Linked DNA regions of Homo sapiens: region 2 is linked to region 1. The links come from fine-mapping of genetic effects on gene expression. A gene starts in region 1. The other region holds a variant in brackets. All regions are shown on one strand. Distances are between the middles of the regions.

Region 1 (2,934 bases):
ACATTAGACCACACAATGCATAGAATATAATAGTAATTACTCCCAAATAACTATACTCAAATGAACAGAGAGAGAAAACAATAGGCATTTGCAAATTTAATCATTTACCATGCTGGCCTAATTACTTGATACCTTTTTTTCTCTGTAGTGAAATATAACCACCTTACAATTAATAAAACAATAATGGTAACTTTCAACTGCAAAATGAGATCTTGAAATCTTAAGATGAAATTAAGATTGTTAAACTAACAGTGATGGAAAATAGCTGCCTTTTAAGTCCTAATTCAGTATTTATCTTAAGAAACACAATATATAAGTAAAATTTTCCTGCATTGATTACTTTGTATGAGTAAACAATGTTTTGTGTGCCAAAGTTTAACAAAATAATTATGTTATAATTTTTTTGCATAAAAGTTCCCAGAAAGTTGTTTTTTGTTTTTTGAGATGGAGTCTCGCTCTGTCGCCCAGGCTGGAGTGCAGTGGCGCGATCTCGGCTCACTGCAAGCTCCGCCTCCCGGGTTCACGCCATTCTCTTGCCTCAGTCTCCTGAAAGTTTTTTTATAGTATAGATTTGTAAAGAATCATCATTAACACACATATACTTGTATATAATTTCTAAGACCACAAGGCATAAATTCACATTTGTATATAATTTTCAAGACCATGTGAAATGGAGACCTTTTCATATAAAGCATATTCAGACAACTTAATGTTCATGTTGGCTTTTTAAAAAGTGAATGACTATTAGAGCAGTTGGACTAAAATGATTCAGACAAGGCCAAAAAAAAGACTAAATCTTGTTATACATTGCTTCTATTCAACAGAAAATTATTCAAAAATAAGCTATCTTTTACAGAAAGCATGGATTTAAAATAAAATTAATAGTCAAAATTATTTTAATTTTTTATAGATAGAAGTAAATATCGAGATAAAAAATCTTATGATAACTTCAGTTAGAATTCTGAATCAAATTACATATGAAAGTAACTTGCCTCTGTGGGATAATACGTTGTTTCAAAATTAGCATGGATTTAAGATTTCATAATATTAACTCTGTTTAATAGTTATATTGAAGACCCACTAATTAAATGGATTCTTAGGTATGCTCAAATCCAAATCTTTAATCTTCAGTTTTCTTTATTTGCTTCAGAAGCATAGCAAATAATTGCATTAAAAAAATCTTGTTATCATAGTAATGTTTAATAATCCCAGAAATAAAATTTAAATATTCTATAAATGTTTCTTTCAAAAAATGGGCATAAAATAGTAAGAAAGTAGTAAGAATAAAAACAAATTAGAACAACATTTTCTGTTAAAAACGTCAAAAAACACAAATGAAATTTTATAAATCAAGTTTCAAAAGAGTGAAAAGCTTTACAGAAATAAGCATTATACTCACATAGTCTCCACAAAACATTTTGATGGTAATTGTTAACCTCAGGGATGAAAATATTTGATCGATTGCATAAACTTGTTTCACTGTGAAGCCAGAAAGAATTAAGGTTCACTGTTAAATCAAATGTAAATATGTTCACTGTTCACCTCAGACTCAGGCAAGAAAATGTAAAAGCAAATCTGGATACAGCATGACTTGAGATACTGTATTTATACTTAGTTATCAGTCATAGGTGAGTAGGCAGAATTATTGCACAAAATAAGTAGAACCATTAACCTAATCCCCAGTTGTATGTTGATTTAAGACACATAAAGTAGCCAACTAATGAAAGAAATGTAATCTTTTGAAAAAGCTGATGACTTATGGAAAGCTAAGTTGATTACCCATAAAGTTAATCATTTATTTTCTGCTTAATTGTTGTTAACATGGAAACTCTTTCAGGTGCTCCAGCCCTAGTTTCCTATCTTAAATTGCTAGGTTCTATGTGTATCCATACAATTTTAAAAGAATATTTCAACTACTGTTTATCTGCTCTTATATTAAAAAATAATGTATTTAGGGGCTGGGCCTGGTGGCTCATGCCTCTAATCCCAGCACTTTGGGAGGCTAAGGCAGGCAGATCACTTGAGGTCAGGAATTCGAGACCAGGCTGCCCAACATGGCGAAACCCCGTCTCTACTAAAAATACACAAATTAAAAAAAAATTATTTTAAATATATTTAGAAAAGAATTCATTATCCACCAATAAAAGTCTTTGGAGAAATATATTCACCATCATTTTTGCACTTAATTTTCCTATATTTATATATATGTAATTTTAATATTAACTATTGCATTTTAAGGAAATAAATTTTAGAAAAACCTGTAAAGTTCAATATAGTGTTGGAAACTATCTAGATACATTCATATATGATTCCAAAAATAACAAAATGAATCTGTATTATATTATTTTACTGCTACTTGCTATTTATTGAACAATATAGTGTTCATTTATAAAAATTTTAAAATACTTTGAATAAGAATTAGGAGCAAATAATCCTTTATTGAAAGAACCAAATACTAACAAGACAAGTGTCAACTGATCAGCATCCATAGGTCTAGAACTACCCAAAATAATTCTGATGTTAAAATATGAGTAAAAGCCATGAAGCAGTATGTATTTATGTAATACACACACACACACACACACAAACACAAATATATATATATATAATGAGCAACTATATATATATATTCTTCAGCATTCAATTTATAATATTATCTGATTACCTTACCAGTATACCTGGTACTATGAGAGATATATGGAACCATGCTGCTTGGCTCAAAAACATTAAAATCTAGTAGGTCCTACTATGTATGTGTATGTGTCTGTGTATGAATCAGGGTCTTGTGTTTTTGCTATGTAGACAGCATATAGCAATTATAAAATTGTATAATTTATATTGTATAATTGCTATAATTGTATAATTTATATTGTATAATTGCTATATGTAGACAGCATATAGCAATTATAAAATAATAGATATACTTATTAAAAC
Region 2 (2,934 bases), 490 kb before region 1:
TGTTTACCTAACTAGATATATGTTGATTTATACATATTTGTGCGCTGTATTGCATAGCTAAAAAAAATTGCTGCAATGTTTGAGTATTCCTATGTTTTTCCAAATCAATTTCTCAAACATTTAGAGATTAAAATTTAGCAATTGGATGCATTTGTTAATAATGACAACTGACAGTCATTGATTAGTTATGGCATGCTTCAATATGACATTCCATTTAATATCCCCAATGTCCCTCTGGAGGAGACATCATTCTTACCCGAATTACATGAAGGTACGAAATGACGTTTAGGGAGATTAACCAACTTTCAAATAGCTGCACTTTACATGGCACTATTAGCCATTGTGGTGAACTACCTTGACCTCCCCACTGTGGGAGATTTACTAGGACTTTCTAGGGATTGAAAGCAAGGACTGCCTTAGTCAAAATTACAGAGCTGAAGCTTATTTTCAGATAGTCTCCTTTATCCCTTTCTTTGATCTCCAAATGCTCTTCTTTTCCTGTGAAAACTCTTTCCCTACTTGAAAATAGAAATCTACTAGGAGTTGGTTAAAACTAGAAATTGACACATACAGAGCACACAAACTGGAATTTTACAGAATAGTGTTTACCAAATGTTAATGGGTGAGCCTCAAACAGTGTTCTCTTTTTAAATGAGTTTGGGAAGTAATAGGTTTAAAAACACAAATAACTTTCTTTACTATAGGTTTTTTTTTAAGCACTGGGACTATCTATCTATCCATTGATCTATCATATTACCTACCAACATATTTATCTACCTATGATATCTATCAATCATCTATCATCTGTCTATTCTATCAATCTATTATCTAACTCCTCTGTGTTTTTTTCTTCACATGTAAAACATTTTCCACAGTCTTATTGTTTAGAACACTGTATCAGTCTGTTCTCATGCTGCTAATAAAGACATACCCAAGACTGAGTAATTTATAAAGGAAAGAGGTTTAGTTGACTCACATTCAGCACAGCTGGGGAAGCCTCAGGAAACTTACAATTATGGCAGAAGGGGAAGCAAACATGTCCTTCTTCACATGGCAGCAGCAAGGAGCAGTACCGCGCAAAAGGGGGGAAAAGCCCCTTATAAAACCATCAGATCTTGTAAGAACTCACTCACTATCACAAGGACAGCATGAGGTTAACCACCCCCATGATTAAATTACCTCCCACTGGGTCCCTCCTATGACACGTGAAGATTATGGAAACTACAATTCAAGATGAGCGTTAGGTGGGGACCCAGCTGAACCATATCAAACACAAATTTTGGAAATGCTTTTGTAAGGGCTATTTGATTCACAATTAGATGTTTTTTAAATCCTAACTTAATGGAAGGTGTATGTCCAGGGAAATTGCTGACCCTAGAAGATAATGTAGAACAAACCAATGTTATTTATTATCAGATTTCAAATTAACAAGTTGTTTGTGAATATTCTAGGCTACTTTGCCTCAGTATATCCTGCATCCAAAGGAAGCACACATTAAATTGAAAGAACATTGAAAAGTAGTATGGGTCTTTGTAACATTTTCTCCAGGAAGTGATGAGAGATTCACAACGTTCCCCCCGCCCCGCCCCCATTCATGTGTCCTCTCTTATCGAAGTTCCACTTTCCAGGCAGCTGTTCAGCTGTTTTCTTTT[C/T]CTCTTCTGCTGCCCATTGCTGCATGCTGGGTTTGTCCTTTCATTCCCCTTCTTCTTTCTTTGGCCAAGGTCCTCCAAAAGTCCCTGGAACTGGTGGCCTCTTTTGCGTAATGGTCAATTTAGCCTTTCTTTCAGTTTCCAAATTGCCTCTCTACTCTTGGGTCCTCCAAGAGTCCCTGGAACTGGTGGCCTCTTTTGAGTAATGGTCAATTTAGCCTTTCTTTCAGTTTCCAAATTGCCTCTCTACTCTTGACTCCTGCCCCAGCATAACAAACAATCTCTTAGAGAATAAAAATTGCAAATACTTTTGATATATTTTAAATCCTTCCTATGTAAGAAAAACCTGAATTAAATGGGTGCTAACAAATGTTACAATCCTGTGAATGTCATGCATTTTTTTCAGATCTTTAAAAATTGATATACTGTATTTAATAGAAATAAGAATACTCATAGTTTATCTACTGTTAAAGCAAACTAAATATGGCCTGAGAAGGACTCTATATTTCCATATTTGAGTCCTTGTGGGCAAACCATAACCTAACTTAGTCGGTAGAAAAGACTGAAAAGCCTAACTTAGGTGTATGTGTCTATAACAATAGCTGAGTCTTGGCCAATTCCTGTAGTCATACTTCAACCACTCATACACTGCTGAGCATTCAAACTGTGTTCAAATAAGGCAAACATCAACGTGTTACCAATTCAGCTGTTTCTGTACCTCACTTCCATTTTCTGTACATCATTTTCCTTTTTCTGTTCATAAATCTTCTTCCACCTTATGGCTGTGCTGGAGTCTTCGAGCCTGCCGGATTCATGAATTGTTCATTGCTCAATTAAACTCTTTTAAATTTAATTCGGTTGAAGTTTTTCATTTATCACTACTAATCATTTTATGTATCACAGAGAAAGAAAATGCTGCCAATTTCTCCACATCCTCTCCAGCACCTGTTTTTTCCTGACTTTTTAATGATCGCCATTCTAACTGGTGTGAGATGGTATCTCATTGTGGTTTTGCTTTTACACTGTTGGTAGGACTGTAAACTAGTTCAACCATTGTGGAAGTCAGTGTGGCAATTCCTCAGGGATCTAGAACTAGAAATACCATTTGACCCAGCAATCCCATTACTGGGTATATACCCAAAGGATTATAAATCATGCTCTATAAAGACACATGCACACGTATGTTTATTGCGGCACTATTCACAATAGCAAAGACTTGGAACCAACCCAAATGTCCAACAATGATAGACTGGATTAAGAAAATGTGGCACATATACACCATGGA

Alleles and levels. Alleles are on the strand shown, and positions count from the first base shown. SD is a standard deviation of normalised expression in the study named.
With allele T in place of C in region 2, the expression in pancreatic islets of the gene that starts at base 1,581 in region 1 is higher (large effect, 1.0 SD a copy in PISA).

Evidence for each region. PIP is the estimated chance that this variant, and not a neighbour inherited with it, causes the effect.
Region 2: its variant is fine-mapped to the expression of ANXA10 in pancreatic islets (PISA, PIP 0.93).

What each region holds. Positions count from the first base shown.
Region 1 is chr4:168,091,184-168,094,117 of GRCh38, reverse strand. It overlaps ANXA10 (annexin A10), which reads right to left and starts at 1,581. Exons shown (of 12, transcript NM_007193.5): 1 at 1,400-1,581. The coding sequence starts at 1,417. LOC124900170 (a long non-coding RNA gene) reads right to left here and starts at 1,381. Exons shown (of 2, transcript XR_007058357.1): 1 at 1-1,381.
Region 2 is chr4:168,576,592-168,579,525 of GRCh38, reverse strand. The region is part of intron 2 of PALLD (palladin, cytoskeletal associated protein); the gene reads right to left. The region is part of intron 1 of LOC124900807 (a long non-coding RNA gene); the gene reads left to right. Among named protein-coding and RNA genes, the nearest start is that of PALLD-AS1, 71 kb to the left of the region's middle. The variant C/T (reference allele first, on the strand shown) is at 1,653.